6 separate regions of the Homo sapiens genome follow, and all the other regions are linked to region 4. The links come from fine-mapping of genetic effects on plasma protein levels. Region 4 holds a variant in brackets. A gene starts in each other region. All regions are shown on their forward strands.

Region 1 (5,000 bases), not on the chromosome of region 4:
GAACTTCCAAAGCTGCCTCCTCAGAGTGGGAATTTCCACTCACTTCTCTCACGCCAGCACTGACCTCCCAGCGGGGGAGGGCATCTTTTCTTGACAGAGCAGAAGTGGGAGGCAGACAGCTATCACTTTCCAGAAGACTTTCTTTTCTGATTCATACCCTTCACCTTCCCTGTGTTTACTGTCTGATATATGCAAAGGCCAAGTCACTTTCCAGAGATGACAACTCCTTCCTGAAGTAGAGACATGCTTCCAACACTCAGAAGCCTATGTGAACACTCAGCCAGCAAAGCTGGGAAGTTTTTCTCTGTGACCATGGGCTAATTGGTCTCCTTCTCTGGATTGTGGCTTTATCAGATAAAAACAAGTGGTCATGCCACAGGATGTCTATAAGCCCATTGATTCTGGGATTCTATGAGTGATGCTGATATGACTAAGCCAGGAGAGACTTATTTAAAGATCTCAGCATCTTTCAGCTTGTTAACCTAGAGAAAACCCGAAGCATGACTGGATTATAAAGGGAAATTGAATGCGGTCCACCAAGTTCATGGTAAAGGATGCACTAACTGATTAGAGAGAGGTTTCCCCTGATATGAGGAAAACTTCTTGGAAGATGAGGTGAGATGGCCTAGGAAGAAATTCCTACACAAAGTTGCACAGTCTCTAGTCCTGGAAACATTTTATTCATTGGATAAGAATGGATTGAGGCATGAGCAGAGGACTGAGACAAACACAGAGAAGTTTCAACACTGGTTGGGGAGAAAAGGAGTAACTAGTGAGATTCAGGCAGAACAAGAATAAGGCTCCTCAAGAGGCACAAGCAAAGCAGGGCTCGAGTTGATTTGTTCTCTCTTCATCCTGCTTTTTGTAATTCCACCAGAGTCTGAAATGGCCACTCCATAGAGTCTCTGCTCTGGGATTCTCCAGGAAACCAATATCCATCATGAGACATCAAGTCTAGTCCCAGGAAGAAGAGATTCTGGAATGGAAACATCCTGGGTGGGAGTCTCAGCACATCTACTATTCTGTCTGAGTTACTGGACAAATAACTTCAGTTTTAACCTAACGAAAGCTGGGTTGGTTGGAGGACTGGGCAGGCAGCGCTGGAAAGTATGTCAGCACCATACCTGACTCCCTGAATGCACTCAACAATGCCATTACTGACCACTTACTAGAAATAAAACAGTCATTTGTTGAATACAACCCGTTTCTTTTTACAAGTGTAGTGAAAAGTGTTTTCTTTCAAGAAACCCCATGCATTTATAGACATTGCCTCAGTGACCCTTTATGAAAGAAGTCACTAGTCTTTGTATGCCCATTGGGCAAGGGCACCGCAAGGCTCAGAAGGAGGAGGCAGTGGGCTAGGAGAATCGAGAGATCAGAATTTTAAACTCAGCCCAGCCATTAACATGCCTCAAGTACTCCTATCATATTTGTAAGAGACAACAGTTCACTGAAATGAATTCTAAGGTCTTTGGGTTTTTATCAGTGTGCTTCTGTAGTTTCTGAGGAAATCTAAGGCACAACTGAGGAATGAAGTCAGGCTTTCCAATTCCCGAAATACTCCTCCACTGCTTACTCATGTCCCTTGGAAATTAAGAAGGAAGCCAGGAGAATAGCTGCCATAACCAGGGATGAACTTCTTGTCCACTGCTGCCTGCTATGCTAGCAACAGCCTCCTAACTCATAATGACTTAGCCATGAGGAATGTTTCTAGATTCTCCTTTAGCTGTCTGCCCATTTGGAAGATGCTGAGGACAGAGAGAGGACCCAAGCAGGCAACTAGTTGGAGGACTTGTACACGTTTCCTTCCAGCAGTATGTCAGAGAGGTGGCAGCCCACTGGGGACAGGGCTGCCTGGGTTCTGTGCTCGAGGGGACCTTGAGCAGGCTATTTAACCCTTCTGTGCCTCAGTTGCCTGATCTATAACATGAAAATTAGCAATCCCTACTAGATAAAGTTGGGGAATTTACAGAGTTAATATTTGTAAAGGTCTGAGAATATTCCTGGCAGAGTAAGCACTCTGTGAGTATGACACTGGCATTTCTTCTGCAGCACTACATGCTGTCTATGCCTTTGTCCAAGTCTGAAACCCTAGAACTCTTAGAATTCAGTTCAATGTTTACACAATCCTACAGTTCTGCTAGGCTTCTATGATGCTACTATTCTGCATTTGAATGAGCAAATGGATTTAATGCATTGTCAGGGAGCCGGCCAAAGCTTGAGAGCTCCTTCCTGGCTGGGAGGCCCCTTGGAATGTGGCCTGAAGGTAAGCTGGCAGCGAGCCTGACATGCTTTCATCTAGTTTCCTCGCTTCCTTCCTTTTCTGCAGTTTTCGCTTCAGAGAAAGCAGAATCCTTAAAAATAACCCTCTTAGTTCACATCTGTGGTCAGTCTGGGCTTAATGGCACCCCATCCTCCCCATTTGCTCATTTGGTCTCAGCAGTGAATGGAAAAAGTGTCTCGTCCTGACCCCCTGCTTCCCTTTCCTACTTCCTGGAAATCCACAGGATGCTGCATTTGCTCAGCAGATTTAACAGCCCACTTATCACTCATGGAAGATCCCTCCTCCTGCTTGACTCCGCCCTCTCTCCCTCTGCCCGCTTTCAATAAGAGGCAGAGACAGCAGCCAGAGGAACCGAGAGGCTGAGACTAACCCAGAAACATCCAATTCTCAAACTGAAGCTCGCACTCTCGCCTCCAGCATGAAAGTCTCTGCCGCCCTTCTGTGCCTGCTGCTCATAGCAGCCACCTTCATTCCCCAAGGGCTCGCTCAGCCAGGTAAGGCCCCCTCTTCTTCTCCTTGAACCACATTGTCTTCTCTCTGAGTTATCATGGACCATCCAAGCAGACGTGGTACCCACAGTCTTGCTTTAACGCTACTTTTCCAAGATAAGGTGACTCAGAAAAGGACAAGGGGTGAGCCCAACCACACAGCTGCTGCTCGGCAGAGCCTGAACTAGAATTCCAGCTGTGAACCCCAAATCCAGCTCCTTCCAGGATTCCAGCTCTGGGAACACACTCAGCGCAGTTACTCCCCCAGCTGCTTCCAGCAGAGTTTGGGGATCAGGGTAATCAAAGAGAGGGTGGGTGTGTAGGCTGTTTCCAGACACGCTGGAGACCCAGAATCTGGTCTGTGCTTCATTCACCTTAGCTTCCAGAGACGGTGACTCTGCAGAGGTAATGAGTATCAGGGAAACTCATGACCAGGCATAGCCTATTCAGAGTCTAAAAGGAGGCTCATAGTGGGGCTCCCCAGCTGATCTTCCCTGGTGCTGATCATCTGGATTATTGGTCCGTCTTAATGACACTTGTAGGCATTATCTAGCTTTAACAGCTCCTCCTTCTCTCTGTCCATTATCAATGTTATATACCCATTTTACAGCATAGGAAACTGAGTCATTGGGTCAAAGATCACATTCTAGCTCTGAGGTATAGGCAGAAGCACTGGGATTTAATGAGCTCTTTGTCTTCTCCTGCCTGCCTTTTGCTTTTTCCTCATGACTCTTTTCTGCTCTTAAGATCAGAATAATCCAGTTCATCCTAAAATGCTTTTTCTTTGTGGTTTATTTTCCAGATGCAATCAATGCCCCAGTCACCTGCTGTTATAACTTCACCAATAGGAAGATCTCAGTGCAGAGGCTCGCGAGCTATAGAAGAATCACCAGCAGCAAGTGTCCCAAAGAAGCTGTGATGTGAGTTCAGCACACCAACCTTCCCTGGCCTGAAGTTCTTCCTTGTGGAGCAAGGGACAAGCCTCATAAACCTAGAGTCAGAGAGTGCACTATTTAACTTAATGTACAAAGGTTCCCAATGGGAAAACTGAGGCACCAAGGGAAAAAGTGAACCCCAACATCACTCTCCACCTGGGTGCCTATTCAGAACACCCCAATTTCTTTAGCTTGAAGTCAGGATGGCTCCACCTGGACACCTATAGGAGCAGTTTGCCCTGGGTTCCCTCCTTCCACCTGCGTTCCTCCTCTAGCTCCCATGGCAGCCCTTTGGTGCAGAATGGGCTGCACTTCTAGACCAAAACTGCAAAGGAACTTCATCTAACTCTGTCCTCCCTCCCCACAGCTTCAAGACCATTGTGGCCAAGGAGATCTGTGCTGACCCCAAGCAGAAGTGGGTTCAGGATTCCATGGACCACCTGGACAAGCAAACCCAAACTCCGAAGACTTGAACACTCACTCCACAACCCAAGAATCTGCAGCTAACTTATTTTCCCCTAGCTTTCCCCAGACACCCTGTTTTATTTTATTATAATGAATTTTGTTTGTTGATGTGAAACATTATGCCTTAAGTAATGTTAATTCTTATTTAAGTTATTGATGTTTTAAGTTTATCTTTCATGGTACTAGTGTTTTTTAGATACAGAGACTTGGGGAAATTGCTTTTCCTCTTGAACCACAGTTCTACCCCTGGGATGTTTTGAGGGTCTTTGCAAGAATCATTAATACAAAGAATTTTTTTTAACATTCCAATGCATTGCTAAAATATTATTGTGGAAATGAATATTTTGTAACTATTACACCAAATAAATATATTTTTGTACAAAACCTGACTTCCAGTGTTTTCTTGAAGGAAATTACAAAGCTGAGAGTATGAGCTTGGTGGTGACAAAGGAACATGATTTCAGAGGGTGGGGCTTACATTTTGAAGGAATGGGAAAGTGGATTGGCCCCGGTCTTCTCCACTGGGTGGTCTCCTCTGAGTCTCCGTAGAAGAATCTTTATGGCAGGCCAGTTAGGCATTAAAGCACCACCCTTCCAGTCTTCAACATAAGCAGCCCAGAGTCCAATGACCCTGGTCACCCATTTAGCAAGAGCCCAACCCCCATTCCTTTTCTCACAGACCCTGACCCCTGCATGCAATTCTTCCCTTAACATATTGCAACTGCCCCCTAACTGGGCTACCCACCCCCCAATCTGTACCTCTCCAATTAATACCCCAACCTGGAGTAATACAGACACTGCCAGTATTAGGAAATAAGGAAAGAGTTA
Region 2 (5,113 bases), not on the chromosome of region 4:
GTTTAAGATTGTCTTGGCTATTCCACTGCGGCCTCTCAGGGAGTGAGGGAAAGGGAGAGCGTCAGGATAAATAGCTAATGTGGATGGAGCTTAATACTTGGGTGAGGGGTTGATAGGTGCAGCAAACCACCATGGCACATGTTTACCTATGTAACAGACCTGCACATCCTGCGCATGTATCCCAAAATTTAAAATAAAATAAAAATTTTTTAAAAAGAACATGGTTATATTCCTAAATCTAAAAAGGAAAAACAGGGGATAGCTCAGCAAACCTGGATAGGAGAGTCATGGAGAAACCACCTTGAAAGAAGTTAAAACCATTAGTTGAGGGATGTATCCAGGTTGAGGAACACAGGGAGACAACAGAGGAGAAGAACCTCAACTTAACTCTTCTCCCTGCTCTAATGTCCTCAGAAGCTCCCTTGTGCCTAAACCCAGTCAGAAGCTAGAAGGTCAGCAACCTCACTGATGTAACCCACCAAGATTGGCTTCCTAGGGCAGAGAATAGAATGGAAAAGAATGGAATGTGTGTCTGAAGGGACAAGCTTATAATATCCTTTTCTCAGGTGAGTCTTGACACATTTTTGTGTCAAAGTTAGGTAGGTCTCAAAATGAATTGAGTGGTGTACAATCTTTTGATATTCTCTGGAAGAGATTGCACAAGATTGAAATGACCACTTCCTTCAGTGCTTGGAGGAATTAGCTGTTTGTGCCCTTTGAGCCCAGAGAATGTTTTGTGGGAAGATTTTCAATTCCTGATTCCATTTCTTTAATAGCTTTAGAATGACTTTCTATTTTTTATTTATTTGTGCACCCTGGTCAGTTAGATTTTTAAGAAATTCATCCATTTCCTCTAAACTAAATTTTTGGCATAAGGTTCTTATCATTTTCTTTTTGGTGTCTGCAGGCTCTGCAACTGGTTATATGTACCTTTTTCCTTTTTTCTTTTCTTTTTTTTTTTTTCTGGGACAGAGTCCTACTCTGTCACTCAGACTGGGGTGCAGTGGTGCAATCTTGGCTCACTGTAACCTCGGCCTCCCAGGTTCAAGCAATTCTCCTGCCTCAGCCTCCCAAGTAGCTGGGATTACAGGCATGTGCCACCATGCCTGGGTAATTTTTGTATTTTTTTTAGTAAAGACAGGGTTTTACCATGTTGTCCAGGCTGCTCTAGAACTCTTGACCTCAAGTGATCCCCCCGCCTCAGCCCCTTTTTTCTTTTTTTTTTCATTTTCAGTTCAGGAGAGTTTTAGCTTAATTATAGGCTACAGAACCAGCTTTGGGCTTCATCTATCCTTTCTAATATTTACTGTTTCCTATTTCTCTAATCCTAGCTCTTTATTTCTTCCCTTTACTTTCACTGGGCTTATTTTGCTATAGTGGAATGCAGAGGGATGAGTATTCCAGGAAGGCACAAAAACTGTGCCAAGTCTTGGAGCTAGGGATGAGTGGGAAAGGGACATGTTCAACCATTTTAAGCCATTCCCTCCCCACCTCCCAGCTCCCAGATATGTGCCCCTCGCAGGAGGAGCCCAGGAATGGGCCAAACACCTCACTTCTTTGCTCTGAGGGCCACCCCAGCCCTCCCATCAACAGCTCTAGAAACCCAATGGTCCTTCCTGGAAACACGGGGCCTGCATCAATCAGAGGTGTTTGAACCATGTCCCTCTGGGCCTGAGGGGCAGAAGGGGACACAATATGTAATGTAAGGAGCCCCTGTCATCAGAAATCTGACTTAATCTGTTTCAGATATTAGACTTCCACATAAAAGTTGACTTGGAAAAAGACTTCTGCTGCTAAACAAAAGTTGAAACTGCCTTGGTGATAAAATATAAGCAGACCAGCTTTCTCTTCTAGCTTTCCCTCTCATTTCCCATAAGATTTTGGTCAAGTTATTTAATCTCTCTGCATCCGTTTCCTCTTCTATGAAATGGGCATGATAATAATGGTATGTACCTCCTCAAACTAAATATATAACGTGAACAGAGTCCTTAGCACAGCACTCTTTCTCTACAGGAGTTAATTTTCATTGTTTTTCTCTTTCCTGTTGGAGAAAGTAAGAAGAAAACAGCTCCTTTATGGCTTCCCATGGTGAATGGCTGGGGCGCGTCTGTGTCCCTTTCTCCTCTCTGGCTCCTTGTGGCCTGAACAGCCAGAAGGAAGCCATGCCATGCTGTTTCAGCCCTCAGCTTCCCTCTTGCATTTCCTAGAAAAGTCTTTGGTGCCCAGCTCCAGCTCAGCAGATTCAGGATCCCCCTTCATCATGACTTGGTCAACGCCCTGCTCAGGCCAAGGTCCTCTGAGAGTTCCAAGCTTCTCCACTCCCTATAAAAGGCCGGCGGAACAGCCAGAGGAGCAGAGAGGCAAAGAAACATTGTGAAATCTCCAACTCTTAACCTTCAACATGAAAGTCTCTGCAGTGCTTCTGTGCCTGCTGCTCATGACAGCAGCTTTCAACCCCCAGGGACTTGCTCAGCCAGGTAAGTCACCTCCCTTCGACTCTCCCTCTCTTTCCCTCTGTTTCTCTATTCAAGGAAGACCTAAGCCCGAGTGCTCCTCCACTTTTTTTTTAGATTGAGTCTCATTATGTTGCCCAGGCTGAAGTGCAGGGGTGCGATCTTGGCTCATTGCAACCTTCACCTCCCAGGTTCAAGCGATTCTCTTGCCTCAGCCTTCTGAGTAGCTGTGATTACAGGCACCCGCCATCACGTGCAGCTAATTTTTGTATTTTTAGTAGAGAAGGGGTTTCACTATGTTGGCCAGGCTGGTCTCAAACTCTTGACCTCAAGTGATCCTCCCGTCTCGGCCTCCCAAAGTGCTGGGATTACAGGCGTGAGCCACCAGGCCCAGCCAAGTGCCCCACTTCTAAGCCCACCAGAATAGTAAGGCTCCTCAGAGGTTCACTTTAACATCTAATTTTAAAGATAGAAAGCTGAAGCCCATGTTGGAGGCAGAAGGGACCCTAGCCATCCACCTCCAGGTTATTGCAGAGCAAGAATGAAACCTAAGCTTCTGACTCCAGATTTAGGGCCTTTTCTTTGACCTCATCTGATCGTCCCAAACTCTGCAGATCTGGGACCACACCCAGGACCTTTCCCACTGGCCTTGCCCGTGGCCTCCCCTAGATGGCTGTGACATGTCTCCACCATGCAGCTGAGCCTTTGAGATCCTGAGGCACATGTCACAGGTCCCACCTCACCTCAGGGTCTAGGGTGGGAGTGCTGGGCTTGGGGGTGAGTAAGATCTATTTCTTCCTCTTTGCTTTGCATCCCATACAGATGCTCCCTGCTGTATTCAAGCTGAGAAAAGCCTAACACATCCTCAAAGTCTTTTTCTTTGTAACTATTTCTAGATGCACTCAACGTCCCATCTACTTGCTGCTTCACATTTAGCAGTAAGAAGATCTCCTTGCAGAGGCTGAAGAGCTATGTGATCACCACCAGCAGGTGTCCCCAGAAGGCTGTCATGTGGGTAGAAAAATCCCTGCTCACCTGGCTCCTCCCCACTCCCACATTCCCCAATCCAAAGTTCTGCCCCAGGAGACAGACGTCAGACTGACTTGAGATCTTAGGATGAGATCTAGCCAGACTGTGTGATGCAAATCCTCCAATTTTGGCTGCACAACAGGTCCAAAGAGGACCTATAATTTCCCACACCTTGTTTCCTGGATGGGCACCAGCCCACACCCTTTAGCAGATGCCAGGATCAGTTTCCCAGGGGCAGCAAGAGCAGTGGCTGCCTCCAGAGACCCCTTCTGTCCACACACCTCCTACTTCCTGTCCTGGAGGGGTGCCCCTTCACCTGTAGTAGGTGGACCAGGCAGGTTTAGAACCCAGTGTGTCATCTCCTGGGTAAACCCTCAAAGGGTTCCATCTAACTGTGCCAGATCTCCTTCCTCCACAGCTTCAGAACCAAACTGGGCAAGGAGATCTGTGCTGACCCAAAGGAGAAGTGGGTCCAGAATTATATGAAACACCTGGGCCGGAAAGCTCACACCCTGAAGACTTGAACTCTGCTACCCCTACTGAAATCAAGCTGGAGTACGTGAAATGACTTTTCCATTCTCCTCTGGCCTCCTCTTCTATGCTTTGGAATACTTCTACCATAATTTTCAAATAGGATGCATTCGGTTTTGTGATTCAAAATGTACTATGTGTTAAGTAATATTGGCTATTATTTGACTTGTTGCTGGTTTGGAGTTTATTTGAGTATTGCTGATCTTTTCTAAAGCAAGGCCTTGAGCAAGTAGGTTGCTGTCTCTAAGCCCCCTTCCCTTCCACTATGAGCTGCTGGCAGTGGGTTTGTATTCGGTTCCCAGGGGTTGAGAGCATGCCTGTGGGAGTCATGGACATGAAGGGATGCTGCAATGTAGGAAGGAGAGCTCTTTGTGAATGTGAGGTGTTGCTAAATATGTTATTGTGGAAAGATGAATGCAATAGTAGGACTGCTGACATTTTGCAGAAAATACATTTTATTTAAAATCTCCTACACAGTGGTGTTTTCTTCAGGAGTAACTGCCAACCAGTAGGGGCTCTCAGAGGTGTGGGTGGATGGCATGCCAGTGGAAGGCAGATGTACAGAGGCCCTGGCCATGGGGCTAGCCTGGCTCATCTGAGTTTCAAGGAGGGCCTGCCTCACCAGCCCAGGCTGTTCTGGAACAATGGCTCCAGTCCCCAGCATGGGCGCTCCTGGCTCGCAACTCATCCGTTTCATATTCAGTTCATTTCTTTCTTTAAAACCACACTCCTGCCAAAAGTAAACCCATCCCTCCCCCTCTAGTCTCCCACCCCAATCTATGCCTCCCCACTCCAAGCAGCAAGTGATTCAGACTTCATGTGCACCTGACACTCAGAGGGAAACCAGATGACCAAGTCCTAGTGAGCCTCAGGATTGGTAGGGAAGAGGGTGCTTGGGCCTAATGGACTTTAGAGGATGGGGAAGTATGGTCATAGCAAAGATTCTTTTAGGGGAGGTCCAAGATAGCAATGTGGGGAGAGGGCCTGGGGGGAATATCCCCAAACGGTCCGATATGGGCTTCCAGAATGTAAAAGTTGGAGACATGTAGAAATGAAAGTTGAGGGCAGGTTCTAGAGGAATTAGAATATCAGGGTGGGGA
Region 3 (5,000 bases), not on the chromosome of region 4:
CCACCATGGCACATGTATACCTATGTAACAAACCTGCACGCTCTGCACATGTATCTCAGAACTTAAAGAATAATAATAAAAATAAAAGATACCTTTTCCAATTAAAAAAAAGAAAAAAAACTCTTTAGAAGTCAATATTTTGTTTTCACAAGGGGGGATCCATTTCCTGCCCATCACTCAGGATCATTCCTGATCAAGGCCCCTCATTCATCAGGCACCAAATCACAGGCAAGAAATTGGTCTACTCTACTTCATTGCTGAAAAGAAAGCCTCCAAGAAAGAAAGAGAAAAAGCCCTTGAAGCTGCCCCTGCTTGCTAGGGATGGCCAGTGAGCTGGATGAAACAGCTGCAGAGCTTGGATATCTAAAGATTGATTTTATTTATTTCCACTGAGCCACTGAGGTTTTTCAGGTGTAGAGTAAATCCAAAGCCCATTAACTCCAAAGCCATTTTTCAAGGAAAACACAAAAATGAATAATCGCTTGCTGATAATTCCTTTAAATTCCCGCCAGAGTTATGAAATTATTCTTACTACAGAAACAATCATTAAACCACGTCAGACAAACACCTCTGAGGTCAATAATATTCCAAATTTATTCTGCCGAGAATTTTTTAAAACTTCGTATCTGCCACATGTGCAACTCAGGCATTCTTGGAAACCATCCCTGCGGTAGCATATCTTTACTTGGAAGCAGTGGGAAAACTTGGAAGAATATTTGGAGAAATATCCAGACTCTGAGGTCTTTCCAGCATTCCCAATCTGCCCTTCTTTTTTTTTTTTTTTTGAGACACAGTCTCACTCTGTTGCCCAGGTTGGAGTGCAGTGGCATGATCTCTGCCCATTGCAACCTTTGTCTCCTGTGTTCAAGCAATTCTCATGCCTCAGCTTCCTGAGTAGCTGAGACTACAAACACCATCCACCATGGCTGGCTAATTTTTTGTATTTTTAGTAAAGACAGGTTTTCACCATGTTGGCCAGGCTGGTCTTGAACTCCTGACCTCAAGTGATCTGCCTGCCTCAGTCTCCCAAAGTGCTGGGATTACAAGTGTGAGCCACTGTACCCGGCCCTATTTCCTAATAATAAAAAACAGTAACTTCTACTCACTGAGTACCTACAGTGATTTAGTCATTCTTCTAAGCAGTTTAGATACATGAACTCATTTAATTCACACGACAATTCCCTAAAGTACACATGATTAGTATCCTGCTCTTACCCTAGCAGAGAGTGGTTAAGTAAGTTGTCCATGGTATCACAGCTAGTCAGTCACAGAGCCATCATCCAAATGCAGATATCCTGAATTCAGGTTCTACATTAGACTAACCCACCAGGAATGGAGCAGGAAAGAACAGGGAAGACTCCACATTTTTGGCCTCTATTTGGTAATTATAGTTAACTTTTTAGGTAATTATAGACCAATTATCCTAGATGGGCACTTAGAGACTTTGCAGGACAGCAAGAGCTGTCTCTAATCCTGTGCCCATGACAGACATCACCAGTCAACCACAACACAGTATTTAACTAACGCAAGTCAACTCCTCAGAATCTTTAACATTCTTGTTTGTGCTACTGTACCAATCAATCAATTTGATATGAGAGTGTGCAGGAAAAAACAGGAAACAGGTTTGCAGTACCTCCACACCAGTATTCAATGCTGTAATCCGCTGCAGTGACTCCATTAAAGACTTTGCCTCCCTTATACCCTCTCCAACTAGGGTGCCTAGTGTTATGAACAAAGGGATATGTATAGGTTCTTGTGTTGCCTCTCTCTTTGATATTTTTAGCCATCAGATACCTTGTCTGCAATGTGTGCTCAGAGAGTGAGGGGGGAACTAGATGATTGATTTTCCAAATGTGTTCCCTAAATGTGTTCCCTGGGGAATAAGGGCACGAGAGGCTGCCTATTCTATTTCAAACAAATCCCCTTCACTACAGTGTATTTGATGAGTTGGGGTTTGTTTTAATTCCATTTGGAAAAGGGCTTTAGCAGCTAAGCAAATGGTTTTAAAGTGCCTCAGAAGTCAAGATTAATAGAAACTATCCAGTTCTGATGTCCTATCATGCTAAAATTTCAGGGACTAAGATTCTGTGATCATTACATTGAAACACAGCAGCAAAGCTGTGGTGTGTTGTCCTTCCTGGTTCAGAGATGCAACTATGTGCAGGGCTGCTGAGCTCTCTCTGCATCTGGGTGGGAGCCTAATGGAAGTTTTGGGGCTCCTTCCTGGTCTCCAAAATCCTCAAGACCACCATGTGAACACAGGAATCAAGGAAGGTTCTTAGATCGACTCATCCCCCAGGCCTTTGGTTTCCTTGCTCCTTTCCCCAACTACAGGTGTTTCATTTCAACTCATCCCCTAGGGCCTTGGTTTTCTTGCTCTCTTCCCCCACTACAGATGTTTAACTTCATTTCATAACCACATATTCCCCTCCTTTTCCAAGGCAAGATCCAGATGGATTAAAAAATGTACCAAGTCCCTCCTACTAGCTTGCCTCTCTTCTGTTCTGCTTGACTTCCTAGGATCTGGAATCTGGTCAGCAATCAGGAATCCCTTCATCGTGACCCCCGCATGGGCAAAGGCTTCCCTGGAATCTCCCACACTGTCTGCTCCCTATAAAAGGCAGGCAGATGGGCCAGAGGAGCAGAGAGGCTGAGACCAACCCAGAAACCACCACCTCTCACGCCAAAGCTCACACCTTCAGCCTCCAACATGAAGGTCTCCGCAGCACTTCTGTGGCTGCTGCTCATAGCAGCTGCCTTCAGCCCCCAGGGGCTCGCTGGGCCAGGTAAGCCCCCCAACTCCTTACAGGAAAGGTAAGGTAACCACCTCCAGAGCTACTAGGTCAGCAAGAATCTTTACAGACTCACTGCAAATTCTCCATTTGAAAAATAGGGAAACAGGTTTTGTGGGTGGACAAGAAATGCCTCAACCTCACATCCAGTCACTGGAAGAGCCAGAACTAGAAAGCTCCCGAGTCTTTTCCCCACATTCAAGAGGGTTGCTGGGTGCATCCATACCCAGCTATCCTTACAGTGTTTGGGAATGGGGAATGGCTCTGTCTTACTGTGGGCATGGTGGGCATTTTTGGCAGTGGGAGAGAAGGAAAATCTGTTGATTAGAAGCTCAGTATGTTAATTCGACTCCAGGACAGCTTTCAGAGACAGTGGCTAAGAGAAGAACGAGGTCCCAGGGGGATCTCTTGAGGTGACTTATTTTGACACTCTTTGGGAAAGTTATCTAGGAGATTTGTTCCATAACTCATTTTCCCATACTCTGGTGACAAATTTACTGAGTGTATCGGTCCCACTGAGCCAGTGCATAGCATGGTAACAAACAGTTCTAAATTATCAATGACTTAACAGAATTAACTAAATTAACAAAAGTTACTTTCTCACTTGTACTAAATATCTATAATGTATGGGCTCAGGCTTCTGCATTTTATACTCAGGATTCTAGACTGATGGAGAAGTTGCCCATGTGGGGGAACATTGATGGATACTGTGATAAAGCAGAAGAAAGCTCTCAGGAGTCTTGCATAGGCAATGCACTGTGGCTCAAAAATGACACCCATCACTTTGTCTCCTTCTTTATTGATCAAAACTAATTAATGCCTCCAACCAAACAAAAGTGGCCAAGAAATGCAAGTCTACCTTGTGTCTCAAAACAGAGGATGGAGAATATTTGGTGAAAATTACCATGACCATCACATGGCCACGTAGGTCTTTATAATGACAGAGCTAGCATTTGTCACATTGACCAAGCTTTGTCCATACACTCTACAGTAATGATGAGTCCTCAGTGCACAGGGGAGGATGCTGAAGACACAGGACAGCATCCTCCAGACACATAAGACTTCAGAGCAGAGGGATTCTCCCTCCACCTCTCGCAATTCCTTGCTTTCTCCTAACTTCCTTTACAAAGTCATGCTTGGAAATGTCTATGTATCATCATGTGGCTCATTTTTTTCTCTGTTCATTTTTTTTCCCCAAAATTCAGCTTCTGTCCCAACCACCTGCTGCTTTAACCTGGCCAATAGGAAGATACCCCTTCAGCGACTAGAGAGCTACAGGAGAATCACCAGTGGCAAATGTCCCCAGAAAGCTGTGATGTAAGTAAATAAAGTTCACCCTCCCCTAGACAAAAAAATAATGTCTAGGGCACAGAGTCAAGAACTGTGTCACAGTTGCTGGGAGTCATAGACTCTGATAGTTTGACCTCTATGGTCCAATTCATTAATTTTCACAAGTGAGTGTTCACTCCCAGCTCCCTGCCTGGGAGATTGCTGTAGTCATATCAATTTCTTCAAGTCAAGAGCAAAGATGGTTTTACTGGGCCTTTAAGAGCAGCAACTAACCCAAGAGTCTCATCCTTCCTCCTCTCCGTAGCAACCCTTTGTCCAGGGGCAGATGGTCCTTAAATATTTAGGGTCAAATGGGCAGAATTTTCAAAAACAATCCTTCCAATTGCATCCTGTATCTCCCACAGCTTCAAGACCAAACTGGCCAAGGATATCTGTGCCGACCCCAAGAAGAAGTGGGTGCAGGATTCCATGAAGTATCTGGACCAAAAATCTCCAACTCCAAAGCCATAAATAATCACCATTTTTGAAACCAAACCAGAGCCTGAGTGTTGCCTAATTTGTTTTCCCTTCTTACAATGCATTCTGAGGTAACCTCATTATCAGTCCAAAGGGCATGGGTTTTATTATATATATATATTTTTTTTTTTAAAAAAAAAACGTATTGCATTTAATTTATTGAGGCTTTAAAACTTATCCTCCATGAATATCAGTTATTTTTAAACTGTAAAGCTTTGTGCAGATTCTTTACCCCCTGGGAGCCCCAATTCGATCCCCTGTCACGTGTGGGCAATGTTCCCCCTCTCCTCTCTTCCTCCCTGGAATCTTGTAAAGGTCCTGGCAAAGATGATCAGTATGAAAATGTCATTGTTCTTGTGAACCCAAAGTGTGACTCATTAAATGGAAGTAAATGTTGTTTTA
Region 4 (5,113 bases):
TTTATAGATTCAATGCTATCCCCATCAAGCTACCACTGACTTTATTCACAGACTTAGAAAAAACTACTTTAAATTTTATATGGAACCAAAAAGAGCCCATATAGCCAAGACAATCCTAAGCAAAAAGAAAAAAGCTGGAGGCATCACGCTACCTGACTTCAAACTATACTACAAGTCTACAGTAACGAAAACAGCATGGTACTGCTACCAAAACAGATATATAAACAAATGGAACAGAACAGAGGCCTCAGAAATAACATCACAGGTCTACAACCATCTGATCTTTGACAAACCTGACAAAAACAAGCAATGGGGAAAGGATTCTCTATCTAATAAATGGTGTTGGGAAAACTGGCTAGCCATATGCAAAGAACTGAAACTGGACCCATTCCTTACACCTTATACAAAAATAAACTCAAGGTGGATTAAAGACCTAAACATAAGACCTAAAATCGTAAAACCCTAGAAGAAAGCTAGGCAATACCATTCAGGACATAGGCATTGGCAAAGACTTCATGACTAAAACACCAAAAGCAATGGCAACAAAAGCCAAAATTGACAAATGGGATCTAATTAAACTAAAGAGCTTCTGCACAGCAAAATAAACTATCATCAGAGTGAACAGACAACCTATAGAATGGGAGAAATTTTTGCAATCTATCCATCTGACAAAGGGCTAATATCCAGAATCTACAAAGAACTTAAACAAATTTACAAGAAGAAAACAACCCCATCAAAAAGTGGGTGAAGGATATGAACAGATACTTCTCAAAAGAAGACATTTATGCAGTCAACAAACATATGAAAAAAAAGCTCATCATCACTGGGCATTAGAGAAATGCAAATAAAAACCACAATGAGATGAGATACCATCTAACCCCAGTTAGAATGATGATCATTAAAAAGTCAGGATAAAACAGATGCTTGAGAGGATGTGGAGAAATAGGAATGCTTTTACACTGTTGGTGGGAGTGTAAATTAGTTCAACCATTGTGGAAGACAGTGTGGTGATTCCTCAAGGATCTAGAACCAGAAATACCATTTGACCCAGAAATCCCATTACTGGGTATATACCCAAAGGATTATTAATCATTCTACTATAAAGACACATGCACACATATGCTTATTGCAGCACTGTTCACAATAGCAAAGACTTGGAGCCAACCCAAATGCCCATCAATGATAGACTGGATAAAGAAAATGTAGCACATACACAGCATGGAATACTATGCAGCCATAAAATGGATGAGTTCATGTCCTTTGCAGGGACATGGATGAAGCTGGAAGCCATCATTCTCAGCAAACTAACATAAGAACAGAAAACAAAACACTGCATGTTCTCACTCATAAGTGGGAGTTGAACAATGATAACACATGGACACAGGGAGGGGAACATCACACATCTGGGCCTGTTGGGGGATTGGGGGCTAGGGGAGGGATAACATTAGAAGAAATACCTAATGTAAATGACAGATTGATGGGTGCAGCAAACCACCATGGTATGTATATACCTATGTAACAAACCTGCACGTTTTGTACATGTATCCCAGAACTTAAAGTATAATAAACAAAATTTTTTAAAAAAGCCCCACTGAAGCTAAGCTGTCATTAAAGAAATTATAAACCATACATGAGGAAGGGTCAGGAGACACATTAAATAGATGAATTGATATCCCTAAAGAATAAAGAAGAATTTGAAAGACACTATAGGTCTTTTTAAATGAAGAAACAAAACCATAATGAAATAATTAAATACTCTGAGAACACCTGAAGGTTAGTCACTTATCCAAGAGTAAGTGTCCCAGAGTAAGTGGGATTCAGTTATAAGACAAAGGTGAGGGGATATCTTGGTGACATAACTATTAAGTGGTGCAGATGGCTCCCTAAGCTTTTGCTCTTACTTGCTGGACTGCAGGTACTGATGTAGATTTGAAGAGTCTATTGGACATCCCAGGGCAGCAGCAAAAGTGGGTTTAGAGAAAGGTAGAGAATGCTAGGTCTCACCATATTTTCCCCCCGCAGCACTACAGGACGTCGGGACTGGGCATTTCCTTCCAACATGGCCGCCACTGCCTCTCCGCAGCCACTCGCCACTGAGGATGCCGATTCTGAGAATAGCAGCTTCTATTACTATGACTACCTGGATGAAGTGGCCTTCATGCTCTGCAGGAAGGATGCAG[T/C]GGTGTCCTTTGGCAAAGTCTTCCTCCCAGTCTTCTATAGCCTGATTTTTGTGTTGGGCCTCAGCGGGAACCTCCTTCTTCTCATGGTCTTGCTCCGTTACGTGCCTCGCAGGCGGATGGTTGAGATCTATCTGCTGAATCTGGCCATCTCCAACCTTCTGTTTCTGGTGACACTGCCCTTCTGGGGCATCTCCGTGGCCTGGCATTGGGTCTTCGGGAGTTTCTTGTGCAAGATGGTGAGCACTCTTTATACTATTAACTTTTACAGTGGCATCTTTTTCATTAGCTGCATGAGCCTGGACAAGTACCTGGAGATCGTTCATGCTCAGCCCTACCACAGGCTGAGGACCCGGGCCAAGAGCCTGCTCCTTGCTACCATAGTATGGGCTGTGTCCCTGGCCGTCTCCATCCCTGATATGGTCTTTGTACAGACACATGAAAATCCCAAGGGTGTGTGGAACTGCCACGCAGATTTCGGCGGGCATGGGACCATTTGGAAGCTCTTCCTCCGCTTCCAGCAGAACCTCCTAGGGTTTCTCCTTCCACTCCTTGCCATGATCTTCTTCTACTCCCGTATTGGTTGTGTCTTGGTGAGGCTGAGGCCCGCAGGCCAGGGCCGGGCTTTAAAAATAGCTGCAGCCTTGGTGGTGGCCTTCTTCGTGCTATGGTTCCCATACAATCTCACCTTGTTTCTGCATACGCTGTTGGACCTGCAAGTATTCGGGAACTGTGAGGTCAGCCAGCATCTAGACTACGCACTCCAGGTAACAGAGAGCATCGCCTTCCTTCACTGCTGCTTTTCCCCCATCCTGTATGCCTTCTCCAGTCACCGCTTCCGCCAGTACCTGAAGGCTTTCCTGGCTGCCGTGCTTGGATGGCACCTGGCACCTGGCACTGCCCAGGCCTCATTATCCAGCTGTTCTGAGAGCAGCATACTTACTGCCCAAGAGGAAATGACTGGCATGAATGACCTTGGAGAGAGGCAGTCTGAGAACTACCCTAACAAGGAGGATGTGGGGAATAAATCAGCCTGAGTGACCAAATTTTGGTCTGGTGGGAACAGATGGGAACCAGCTCAATTGGGTGTCCACTCAAAGTGCTCTCTCCAGGGGCCTCAGTGACTGTGTTGCTAAACCCAGTGGTCAGTTCTCAGTTCTCAGCCATCAGCAGCATTTGCTCGCCCCGCCTTCTTCCTCCACTTTCTTCACTTGCTTCCAGGATACCACGCTTTCTTTTCTGAATTGCTACAATCTTTCTTCCTTCCTTCCTTGCTTCCTTCCTTCCTTCCTTCCCTCTCTCCCTCCCTCCCTCCCTCGCTTCTTCCCTTCCTCCTTTCCTCCCTTCCTACTTTCCTTCCTTCCTTCTGACAGGGTCTTGCTCTATTGCTCTGTCACCCAGGCTGGAATGCAGTGGCGAGATCTCCGCTCACTGTAGCCTCCTCCCCCTGGGTTGAAGCAATTCTCATGCCTCAGCCTCCCAAGTAGCCAGGACTATAGGCACCTGCCACCATGCCTGGCTAATTTTTGTATTTTTTTTCTTTCTTTCTTTCTTTTCTTTTTTTTTTTTTTTTGAGACGGAGTCTCACTCTTGTTGCCCAGGCTGGACAACAATGGCGCGATCTCGGCTCACTGCAACCTCCACCTCCCGGATTCAAGCGATTCTCCTGCCTCAGCCTCCTGAGTAGCTGGAACTACATGCGCGTGCCACCACGCACAGCTAATTTTTATAATTTTAGTAGAGATGGGGTTTCACTGCGTTGGCCAGGATGATCTCGATCTCTTGACCTTGGGATCCACCCGCCTTGGCCTCCCAAAGTGCTGGGATTACAGGTGTGAGCCACCATGCCTGGCCCTAATTTTTGTGTTTTTATTAGAAACAGAGTTTCACCATGTTGGCCAGGCTGGAGAATTGCTGTAATAGTTTTCCAACTGGCCCCTGTCCTTCCTCTCTCTTGCTCTCCTCCCATCTCATCTGCACCTAGCAGCCAGAGTGATCCTGATACTCTCGGCCTTTACTTCCGCCTCCCTCAGAGCAGCAGCCTGTCAAAACACCAGATTACAACAAATTTAGTTTAAAGGTCTCAATTAGCGTTATTGGCAATTCTAGAATCAGGCAACAGACTCATTGAATCAGGAACAGATTCACTCCATAAAATACAGAGAGTGCTGCAATGAGCTGGGTAGAAGAGGTTAGTTTTATAGACAGGAAGGGGCTGTCAAAGGCAGAAAGAAATGAAGAACAAAAAAAAAGATTGATTTTTTTTTTTTTGAGACAGGATCTCACTCTGTCATCCAGGCTGAAGTCCAATCCCACAATCATGGCTCACTGCAGCCACCACCTCCTGAGCTCAAGTGATCCTCCCATCTAAGCCCCCAAGTAGCTAGGACTACAGGAGCACACCACCACACCTGGCTAATTTTTGTATTTTTTGTGGAGACAGGGTCTCAGTATGTTACCCAGGTTGGACTGGAAACCCTTGGCTCAAGCAATTTGCCTGCCTCAGCCTCCCAAAGTGCTGGGATTACAGGCGTGAGCCACTGCACAGGGCCAGATTCATCATTTCAAAGTTACTTTCTATATGCGGCCGGAACAGGGTGGTTGACATCAGTTTTCTTCAGGTTACTTTTTAATAATGATTAAAACGGGGAACTTCATTATCATGAGCATGGTTACTGTCTGCATTATTACGCCAACTGAAACTGTCATGTTTGGGAATTTGGCTGTTAACTCTGTCTCCAGGAGTCTCAAAGGTCAGATAACAACTTAGTTTTGGTTTGAGGACATGGAACTTTAATACGACAGATTCCATTTTGGTTTGGTCTGGTCAGCTGGGACCTAGTGCAGGAGGTTAGTCCAAAACAATGGCCTTCCATAGTTTTTACTTAACAAGCCCAACTCCTTACGGTAATCCTTTAAGGCCTATGTGATCTGCC
Region 5 (5,108 bases), not on the chromosome of region 4:
TGGTTCATAAAGTAAAGTAGTAATTAAAAAAGTGAGGAACAAAAGAGACATCAATATATAAAAAAGGGAAAATATCAGATGGTAATCCTATTTCATCAGTAATTACACTAAATGTAAAAGTGTTAAAACCCCCAAGAAGCAAAGGTTGAGTAAATGAATTTTTAAAATAAACCAACTGTATGCTATCTATAAGATACATGTTGTAAATCTGAAATCTCAGATAACTTGAAAGTAAAAGTATGGAAAAGTCACCCCATGGAAATGATAATCAAAAAAGAGCTAGTGGCTATACTGTTAATAATATCAGACAAATAAATTTTAAGACAAAAATTGTTACTGGAGACAAAGAAGGACATTCTTTTGTGACTAAGTGTTAAAAATATATATTTTTTAATCTGGAAGGAAATTAACCACTTACATCTTCTGATGTTGATAATGTACAACAATTTTTTTAAATAAGTGTTTCTAATTTTGCCATATTTTCTACAACCAGCTTATATTGTTTTTAAATTATTTAAAAGTTTTTACAACATTCTGCAACAATTCAGCAGCCTTTTATTTTTACCATTCCCAGGTCTTGTAGGTGACAGGTACAGGTCTTTCCATCATAAATATAAGCAGGCATTTTCTCTGGGATCTTAGGCAGGGACATCTTGGGGTACTTCACTTAAGGATTTTCTGAAGGAAAAAGGTTTAACCAACTGGAACCCATGAGTACTTCCTTGAGCTCCTGACCTGTCTGGGCAGGACCCCCGTGTTCTACTCCAACTTCATCGATCATTCAGCAGGTTATCCATGATAGTTGTCTTCCAAAATAAAAGAAAAAAGAAAAAGAAAGAAAAGTCAAAGGAAAGGATTCTGCTTTTTAGAAGCATCAGGTGGATGGAACGTACACCCTGGGTTAGAAAATATGCTGTTCTAATGTGTTACATTAGAGTGAGCTGGGAAGACTCCATAAATAAGGAGATAGAAAGTAGGCCAACTCTTCACCAATTTCTGGAGCTGGGAGTAAAAACAATTTGAAAAAGAGATAATCGAGAGAATGAGTAGCCTGAGCAAAGTCATAGGGGTAAGATAAAACGACATAAAGCTAAAACCAGAATCAAAGCCTTGCATTGCTCCCAAATTAATATTCAAAGTTGTATAATGCTCAATTCCCCCATTGAATAATTTTCCTTTTTTGCATTCCATGTCCATGATCCATGGCCCAGTTATAGGCATGAGGACCCCACCCATGGTCTCTCATCAAACCCCTTTTCACTGATATGGAAGGCGATTAGTTGGTGATTTTGTAATGTGTATGTGAGATGAGGAGCTAGTTGTATGTGAGATGAGGAGCTAGATTAGTGGTTTCCAAAATTTATTCTTTGTATTTCTGAGATATGTGTGTGGGAAGAATGACAAGAAGTCTCTTGTCTCTGATTCAAACTGAAGGTCTCTGATTTTGTCGATAAATTTGCCTTCCCTATATTCTTTTACTTGGAAAAATATTTTCACAGCTCATTAGATGTTTTAGAAACACAGTATTTTAAGATCTTGATATGCTGTGCAGTTCCGATAGCCTATAAAACAAATAGTGGTTTTAAAACATATCCTCAAATTATTTTACACTCTTCCCATTAAGAGGTATGACTATGTTCCCTAACCTTGCACCTGGGATCCTTAAGCCATCATGCAAAATATCTAGCCATGTGGAGGGACCACTGGAAAGATCACACACACACACACACACACACACACACACACACACATACAGAGAGAGAGAGAGACACCTGAGAAATTCCATCTGGTCCAACTGCTGGCTGTTGAAGTCCTCCCAGCCCAGACCCCAGACACTGAATGAAGGCCTTGTGATATAGTCAAGAGCAAAAAAACCCAGAAGATTGTTATTGTTTTAAGTCACTGTTTTCAGATAGATTGCTATGCAGCAATAGATTATTGAAATAGACACTACAATTTTAGGTACTATTATTCTAAGAATATTGAATTTTATTTTTCTGCTAATGTTCTATTATTTTACTTTTCTCTGGGTTTTAGAAAGCCACCAGGATTTAAGACAGTGAAGAATCTTTGAGTCCTTTGTAGAGTTGAACCAAAGTTTGAATGTCTCTTTGTGGACTCGTGTCCTAGGGATACCACTCCAAAGGGAAAAGGGGAATATCCCTTACATATCTTTGACTTTGGTATCCCTGATTCCTTCCTTTTTCTATAGAATGTGTCTCATTTCAGAGAAACTGGTCTCTTGATAATAGCCATAGATTACATACTGTGGTCTTCCTCTACATAGACCCTACCTCACCTACCACTCCTGGTCTTAGCTGAAAAACAGGCTAGCCTCGACTCATACTGTCATTTCCTATCCTCCCACTGAAGTGCACTGGCTCAGCAGATTTATTACTCCATAGATTTATTACTCCATTCTATGATTCATCCTCTCTGCTTCCTATAAAAGGCAGAGACAGAGCTTCCAGAGGAGCAGAGGGGCTGAGACCAAACCAGAAACCTCCAATTCTCATGTGGAAGCCCATGCCCTCACCCTCCAACATGAAAGCCTCTGCAGCACTTCTGTGTCTGCTGCTCACAGCAGCTGCTTTCAGCCCCCAGGGGCTTGCTCAGCCAGGTAAGGTCCCTCTCTCCTTCTCCTTGAAGCACATTGCCCCCTCTCTGGGTTATCCTGGACCAATCAAGAAGACCTGATACCCACAGTCTCACTTTAACAGCTACTTTTCCAAGATAAGGTAACTTAGAAAAAGGATAAGGGGTGAGCCCAACCACACAGCTGCTGTTGGGTAGAGCCTGAACTAGAATTCCAGCTGTGAACCCCAAATCCAGCTCCTTCTAGGATTCCAGCTCTGGGAACACCCTCAGTGCAGTTACCACTCCAGCTGCTTCCAGCAGAATTTGGGATCAGGGTGATCAAAGACAGGAGGCTTCTGGGGATGGGTGTGCGGGCTGTTTCCAGATACCGGGAGACCCAGAATCTGGTCTGTGGAAGCCCAGCTTCCAGAAACAGCAGCTCTGCAGAGGTGGTACGTATCAGGGAAACTCATGACCAAGCATTGAATGCTCAGAGCCTAAAAGGGGATCCATAGTTGGGGTACCCTTGCTCTAAGGAATTGGATTATTATATTAGCCCCTCCTAGCAATGCCCAGAGTAGCCATCAATTCCTCTTCCGTCTTTCAACTGGTGATGGTGCATCCCTATTTCACAGTCCATAAAAGTGAAAGGGAGTTTATGAAATGCCTCAAAGGGCAGAGACATTGGGTTTGGGATGGGCAGCTTTTCCCTCCACCTCTTCCTTTCTTTCTGATTCCTTCTTCTTACCATTCCCTGTTTTACAAACAGAAAGACCCAGGACACACCCTCAATGGACTTTTCTTCTTGTTGTTTCATTGCAGTTGGGATTAATACTTCAACTACCTGCTGCTACAGATTTATCAATAAGAAAATCCCTAAGCAGAGGCTGGAGAGCTACAGAAGGACCACCAGTAGCCACTGTCCCCGGGAAGCTGTAATGTATGTGGACGATGACCACCCACCCCTCACACCTCAGTCCTAGGTTCTTCCCTGGGCAGGGAATAGGACTAGTATCAGAATGAGTTGGAGTCAAATACTGTGATGCATACAGCATCTCTAACCTTATCCCAGACATTTGCCAGTGAGAAACAATACAAGTAAAGAAAGTGGCTTCTCACTCTCAGCTCCCTTTCCAGCTATCATTTTACATCTCAGTTCGTTCCTTCATCCTGGAACCAAGAGAGATTCACTTGGGCTACCAAAAAGAGCTGCTTCTCTGAGTCCCCTTCCTTTGTTTTATCTTCTTCCTTCATCCCTGAGGCATCCCCATCAGCTAGGCTGATGGGCTAGACAGATTTCCCATAGACTTGGTCACACTCCCAGGCTGAACCCTCAAGGTGTTCCATCTGACTGTCTCCTTTCTGCTCCACAGCTTCAAGACCAAACTGGACAAGGAGATCTGTGCTGACCCCACACAGAAGTGGGTCCAGGACTTTATGAAGCACCTGGACAAGAAAACCCAAACTCCAAAGCTTTGAACATTCATGACTGAACTGAAAACAAGCCATGACTTGAGAAACAAATAATTTGTATACCCTGTCCTTTCTCAGAGTGGTTCTGAGATTATTTTAATCTAATTCTAAGGAATATGAGCTTTATGTAATAATGTGAATCATGGTTTTTCTTAGTAGATTTTAAAAGTTATTAATATTTTAATTTAATCTTCCATGGATTTTGGTGGGTTTTGAACATAAAGCCTTGGATGTATATGTCATCTCAGTGCTGTAAAAACTGTGGGATGCTCCTCCCTTCTCTACCTCATGGGGGTATTGTATAAGTCCTTGCAAGAATCAGTGCAAAGATTTGCTTTAATTGTTAAGATATGATGTCCCTATGGAAGCATATTGTTATTATATAATTACATATTTGCATATGTATGACTCCCAAATTTTCACATAAAATAGATTTTTGTATAACAGCTGCCATTCATGGTTTTTTAAAAGGATAAAGTAATAAAGCTGGTGGGGGTAACAGGGTGACAAGGTGAAGGGCGTGGTTGCAGAGGTTGGGCTCACATTGTGGAGAAATGAGCGCGTAATGGACTCTGGGCTTTCCCCCAGGCCAGGCTCACCTGCATGTTAGGGAGAGGCAGCCACAGGCTGGGGCCAGATGAACCCACCCCCCAGCTCCAGATCTGACATCTGCTTCAGCCACTTGTTCAAATACCTTTCTTTTTTCCCAAACTCATTCTTTTTCTCACCATCCCACGCTCTACCCAAAAGCCTGTCCCCTCTTCTATTCTATCAGCCTTGTGACTGGCTGGTTTTCCCCCTTCTAATCAATCCTCTAGTCTAGTAAATACAAATGTCACTTTCATTAAAAAATCAAGTAGGAGACCAACAGATGATTTGGCAAGTGCCTGCCATCATTGATTTCTGCCACCATTGGTGTTCAGACCAAGTCCAACATCCCTTTCTACCCCTTCTTCAGCCCACCAGTTCTCACCCCCAAACACCAAAGTCAACCTTAAACAATGAGATTCAGAAAATGTGAATAAGTATTCAGTTCATTCAAGGACAAAGCTTGAGGG
Region 6 (5,094 bases), not on the chromosome of region 4:
CAGCTGAGGTGCTGGTTCTTCCCTGCAAAGGGCTCTCTAGGGACTCCTGCTTCCCAGGTCTGGGGCTTGCTCAGAAGTGGCCACAGCCCTTCCCAATACCCTCAGCCTCCCCTGGGGAGAGCCATGACCCAGGTGGCATTGTGCGACGTGTCAAATCTCCAAATGCTGTTGAGTCGTGACCCCATTCCCTGCTGGCTTTTGCAGTGGCTGAGATTCCCAAGGCCTTTCAAAGAGGCCAGATCCACCAGGCTCCTTGGAAAGGGTGTGAGGCTTCTTCCCAGGATGCTGGGTGCTTGTCACTGACCCTGGTGCTGAACAGATCTTCCTCGGGTGCCCAGAGGGTCGAGTTTGGCAGGACAATCCCCCCACCCCGACTGCAGGCAGGCTGCCAGACTAGGAGCAGAGGACTTCTGAGTTCTCAGTGACTTCTGTCACTACACCCTGAGGGGTGAACCTCAAATTTTCCCAATGTCATCAGGGGACCATAGACCTGCCTTTGAAGTAGCTTGGAAACAGGGACAGATGTTCCTTGGAAAGAGAGTCAGACTCTAGCAATGAATAAAAGGCACTCATTTACAAGGCTTGAGTGGAAGCTCAGAAGTCCTGGAGCCCAGGCATCAGAGAGACATTGAGACAAGTCCATTGGTAAGAGTGAGAGTAACAAGAAGGGTTTCTGCATTCTGCTTCAGGAACAACACCAGCCATTTATCCATTCACTCACTTAATCCAAAAACTATGTATTGAAGGCCTACCATGTGCCGAGATATATTCCATTAAAGAAAAGAAACAGAAACCTCTGTCCCATGCAACTTACATCCCAGTAGGATGGGGGTGGGGGTACAGGTGGGAGACAGATAGTAAACAGCAGACATAAGTAAGCGAATGGCCTAGCATGTCAGAGGATATAAGCATTTCAGCAAAAAAAAAAAAAAAAAAGAGCAGAGGAAGAGATGGGGATGGCATGCAATTTGACTTCACTGAAAGATGTAATCTAAACAAATACATATATATATTTATAATATATATAATATATATTATTATCTATAATATATATAATATATATTATTATCTATAATATATATAATATATATTATTATCTATAATATATATAATATATATTATTATCTATAATATATATAATATATATTATTATCTATAATATATATAATATATATTATTATCTATAATATATATAATATATATTATTATCTATAATATATATAATATATATTATTATCTATAATATATATAATATATATATTATAATATATATAACATATATTATATATAATATATATATTATAATATATATATTATATTATAATATATATTATAATATATATATTATATTATAATATATATTATATTATATATATTATATAATAATATATATATTATAATATATATATTATATTATATATATGTTATATATATTATAAATATATATTTTATATATATATAATATATATTTATAATATATATAATATATATTTATAATATATATAATATATATTTATAATATATATTATATATATTATAAATATATATAATATATATATATATATATTTTTTGAGATAGAGTCTTGCTCTGTTGCCCAGGCTGGAGTGTAGTGGTGTGATCTTGGCTCACTGCAACCTCTGCCTCCTGGGTTCAAGTGATTCTCCTGCCTCAGCCTCCCAAGTACCTGGGACTACAGGCACCTGCCACCACGCTCAGCTGATTTTTGTATTTTTAGTAGAGATGGGATTTCACCATGTTGGCCAGGCTGGTCTCGAACCCCTGACTTCAAGTGATCCACCTGCCTCGGCCTCCCAAAGTGCTGGGATTACAGGCGTGAGCCACCACGCCCGGCCTAAAAAAGTTTGAAAAAGGTGAAGGAGTGAGTCCTGCAGGTATCTGGGGACAACATTCCAGGCTGAAAGAACAGTCCGTGCAAACCTCCTCAGGAAGGAGCATGTCTGTCTGGTTGGTTTGAGGCATAGGGAGGAGGCCAGGGTGGCTGGGGCAGAGTGAACCAGGGAACCAGGAGATACAGGTGGGCAGAGAGCAGGGCACAGAACTCGCGGGGCCTCGTGGCTGCTGGAGGGTCTTGGACTTGTCCTCTGCGTGAGGTGGAGAGCCACGGGGACGTTCTGAACACGGGAGATTCATGGTCCCTCTGCTGCTGTGCTGAGAATACACTGTAGGGGGCAAGGATGGAGACAGGGAGAGCACCCAGAAGGCAGTTGTAGGAAGCCAGGGATTGATGCTGGTTTCTGGGTGTATTTGGAAAGCAGAGACATGAGCTCACCCAACAGATGGGAAGTTGGGGGCGAGAGGAAGAGGCGTCAGGGATAGCGCCCAGGTTTCTGGCCCTAGTAACCGGAAGGAAGGGGCTGGCAGAGAAGGAGGAGAGAGCAGGTGTAGGGGTGGGTGGGAATCAGAAATTCAGCTTCAGACTTGGGGGGTTGGAGCTGCCTATTTGGTATGGCGAGTAGGCAGCTGGACGTAGAAGGAGGCTGGAGTTTGCGAGAGAAACTTGGGAGTGGTTGGCATATAGATGATATTTAAAGTCAGAAACGTGTACTATTTGCCAGATATAAGCAGTAAGGCAGTTGATGCAAACCAAAGCCTTCTAATGTAATTATTGTTATTATTTTCATTTTGCAGCTGTAGAAACTGAGGCTCAGAGAGAAGTGACTTTGAGCTCACAGTGTCACCGCCTGCTGATGGGAGAGCTGAATTCAAAACCAGGTGACCTGACCTAGAGTCTTTGCTCCTAACCCCTCCACTGTGAGGTGACCCCCTCGCTGGATCTTTCAGGGCATGTGTTAGATGAGCGGTGGATGGACTTTGGATCAAGGGAAGATAATCCATACAAGAAGGGGACAGGAGTTTGGAAGCAGCAAACCAAGTCACAAAGTGAGGGGACGCACTGGCCCTCAAGAAAGCTCAATGTTGGGGAGCAGGGAGATGAGACTGAATAGGAAGGAGGGGCTAGATGGAAGGTACAGCTTCAAGATTGGCCTGAAAAGTTTTGACTGGATGGGGAAGGAAGCAGGGAGCCATTGACGGTTTTGGAGGAAGGGGGCATTACATGGTCAGGGCAGCCCTTGTGAAAGATCCACCACATGTGGGCATGCAGCTGATGAGGGAGGTGTCAGGAGAGACCAGAGAGGAAGAAATAGGCCCAGAAGTTTTTGAGACTCTCTGGGTGTGAAGGATGAGGGCTGAGCCAGTGGAGATGAGAAGGAAGCAAGGAAGCCAAGCTCCCACTGAAGACAGCGCTGGGCAGAGTCTCTGCCTGATGTAATGTGGGGGATGGAGGCGAGGAATGAGTCAAGGGCAAAGTTTCAGACTTGGGGGCAGATGGGGAGATGGGAAACAATGCTGGCTTGAACAGAAAAAAAGGAGGCTGGTGTGAGAGGGAACTCGGTTTTGCCCTTCTGGTACCTGGGGCTGAGTGAACCATAGCAGGACAGACTTCTGCTTCCCAGCAGCTCACAGGTTAGTGTGGGGGACAGAACTGCACAGAGCTGGCCAGGCTGCAAGGCAGAGAGAGCTGAGGGGTGCCACAGAAAGATGGGCCGGAAGGAGGAGTGTCCAGGTGGGTGTGTCTGATTAGTTACTGGTCAGGGCTGGAGACAGAGATTTAAGAAGTATTTATCAGGCCAGGTGCGGTGGCTCACGCCTGTAATCCCAGCACTTTGGGAGGCCGAGGCAGGTGGATCACGAGATCAGGAGATCGAGACCATCCTGGCTAACACGGTGAAACCCCGTCTCTACTAAAAATACAAAAAAAAAAAAAAATTAGCCGGGCATGGTGGCGGGCGCCTGTAGTCCCAGCTACTTGGGAGGCTGAGGCAGGAGAATGGCGTGAACCCGGGAGGTGGAGCTTGCAGTAAGCCGAGATAGCGCTGCTGCAGTCCAGCCTGGGCGAAAGAGCAAGACTCCGTCTCAAAAAAAAAAAAGAAGTCTTTATCCAGAGGTAAAAGATCTGGGGTAGATGATGTCAGGGAGGAAGGGAAGGTTGCTTGAGGCAAAAACAAAGTCTAGGACAGAAGCCCAGGCTTGCTCCTGCCACCAGCTAGCTCTGTGCCCATGAAGCAGATTTATTTTGTTGTTGTTGAAATGGAATCTTGCTCTTTTGCCCAGGCTGGAGCGCAGTGCCACAGTCATGGCTCAGTCGTGCACCACCATGATTGGCTAATTTTCATTTTATTTTTTTTGTAGAGACAGAGTCTCACTATGTTGCCCAGGCTGGTCTCAGACTCCTGGGCTCAAGCGATCTTCCCACCTCAGCCTCCCAAAGTGCTGGGATTACAGTGGACCAGTTGCTTAAACTACTCTGGTCAGTTCCTAATTTTCTCATCTGTAGAAACTAATAGTTCTTACTCCCTGAAGCTGTTGTGAGGACAAAGTAAACTAATAGACTTAACTGCTGAGATTCCCCTGCCCCAACACCCACCCCAGCCTATAGTGAGAGCTCAGGGACATTTCTGAGAAGAGGAGCTCACAGGGAGCTCAGGGAAGAACCATGTCCCAAATCCCAGTGGGAGGAGCATCAAGAAGGATGGTAGGTTCCCAGGGATGACAAGGCGATTCCCTGAGCCAGCTGGAGACTAGGAACTTTATAGACTTCATCTCAGTTAGTTTTCCAGGTCATACCATGAGGGAGTGTCTTATCATCACACCCATTTCACAGATGAGAAAACTGAAGTTCATAAAATCGCTGTTAGTCACACAACCAGGAACAAGTAGAAGAGTGACTGGGACTCAGGGCTGTAGGTAATGATTCCAGAGCCTCTGCTGGTAATCACTGCCCAATGTAAGGCAGTGGGAGGTTCAGGGAGTGGCTGGAGGGGATCAAGAGGCTCAGTGAGAGCACCTTTCCTAGAGCATCAGAGCTGGAAGCCACATTGCTGAGGATTAATTAAATCACAAGTGGGCAGAGAGGAAATGGTAGAGGGAAGTACAGACCACACATCGGAGCAGTTTGGTCATGAATGAAAGGAGAAATGGGAGGGCAGCATGCGAGGGTGTTGAAGTCAAGGGGAGGTCTTTATGGAAGTGGAGAGACAGGATCATGTTGTCAGCAGAGGGAAAGGGGGTCA

Alleles and levels. Alleles are on the strand shown, and positions count from the first base shown. The strength of an association depends on the size of the effect and on how common the allele is.
In carriers of allele T in region 4, the plasma level of the protein whose gene starts at base 2,638 in region 1 tends to be lower than with C alone (weak association).
For the plasma level of the protein whose gene starts at base 2,355 in region 2, T is the low allele of the variant in region 4 and C is the other (weak association).
With allele C in place of T in region 4, the plasma level of the protein whose gene starts at base 2,644 in region 3 is higher (moderate association).
For the plasma level of the protein whose gene starts at base 2,475 in region 5, C is the high allele of the variant in region 4 and T is the other (moderate association).
In carriers of allele T in region 4, the plasma level of the protein whose gene starts at base 2,665 in region 6 tends to be lower than with C alone (moderate association).

Evidence for each region. PIP is the posterior inclusion probability: the model's chance that the variant is causal. Protein levels are from antibody-based Olink assays in UK Biobank. Linkage for the fine-mapping came from a reference panel and not from the study's own genotypes, which makes the PIPs less certain.
Region 1: it holds the start of CCL2, and the variant in region 4 is fine-mapped to the plasma level of the CCL2 protein (UK Biobank, PIP above 0.99).
Region 2: it holds the start of CCL13, and the variant in region 4 is fine-mapped to the plasma level of the CCL13 protein (UK Biobank, PIP above 0.99).
Region 3: it holds the start of CCL11, and the variant in region 4 is fine-mapped to the plasma level of the CCL11 protein (UK Biobank, PIP above 0.99).
Region 5: it holds the start of CCL7, and the variant in region 4 is fine-mapped to the plasma level of the CCL7 protein (UK Biobank, PIP above 0.99).
Region 6: it holds the start of CCL17, and the variant in region 4 is fine-mapped to the plasma level of the CCL17 protein (UK Biobank, PIP above 0.99).

Annotation. Positions count from the first base shown.
Region 1 is chr17:34,252,648-34,257,647 of GRCh38, forward strand. CCL2 (C-C motif chemokine ligand 2) reads left to right here and starts at 2,638. Exons shown (of 3, transcript NM_002982.4): 1 at 2,638-2,778; 2 at 3,575-3,692; 3 at 4,075-4,556. The coding sequence starts at 2,703. The coding sequence ends at 4,180. RefSeq lists enhancers at 1-416, 1,360-2,334, 2,335-3,309.
Region 2 is chr17:34,354,126-34,359,238 of GRCh38, forward strand. CCL13 (C-C motif chemokine ligand 13) reads left to right here and starts at 2,355. Exons shown (of 3, transcript NM_005408.3): 1 at 2,355-2,477; 2 at 3,350-3,464; 3 at 3,901-4,485. The coding sequence starts at 2,402. The coding sequence ends at 4,006.
Region 3 is chr17:34,283,099-34,288,098 of GRCh38, forward strand. CCL11 (C-C motif chemokine ligand 11) reads left to right here and starts at 2,644. Exons shown (of 3, transcript NM_002986.3): 1 at 2,644-2,786; 2 at 3,998-4,109; 3 at 4,487-5,000. The coding sequence starts at 2,711. The coding sequence ends at 4,592.
Region 4 is chr3:42,862,444-42,867,556 of GRCh38, forward strand. ACKR2 (atypical chemokine receptor 2) reads left to right here. Exons shown (of 3, transcript NM_001296.5): 3 at 2,023-4,843. The coding sequence starts at 2,060. The coding sequence ends at 3,214. Among named protein-coding and RNA genes, the nearest start is that of CYP8B1, 11 kb to the right of the region's middle. The variant T/C (reference allele first, on the strand shown) is at 2,181.
Region 5 is chr17:34,267,747-34,272,854 of GRCh38, forward strand. It overlaps CCL7 (C-C motif chemokine ligand 7), which reads left to right and starts at 2,475. Exons shown (of 3, transcript NM_006273.4): 1 at 2,475-2,620; 2 at 3,400-3,517; 3 at 3,951-4,496. The coding sequence starts at 2,545. The coding sequence ends at 4,056.
Region 6 is chr16:57,402,103-57,407,196 of GRCh38, forward strand. It overlaps CCL17 (C-C motif chemokine ligand 17), which reads left to right and starts at 2,665. Exons shown (of 4, transcript NM_002987.3): 1 at 2,665-2,734.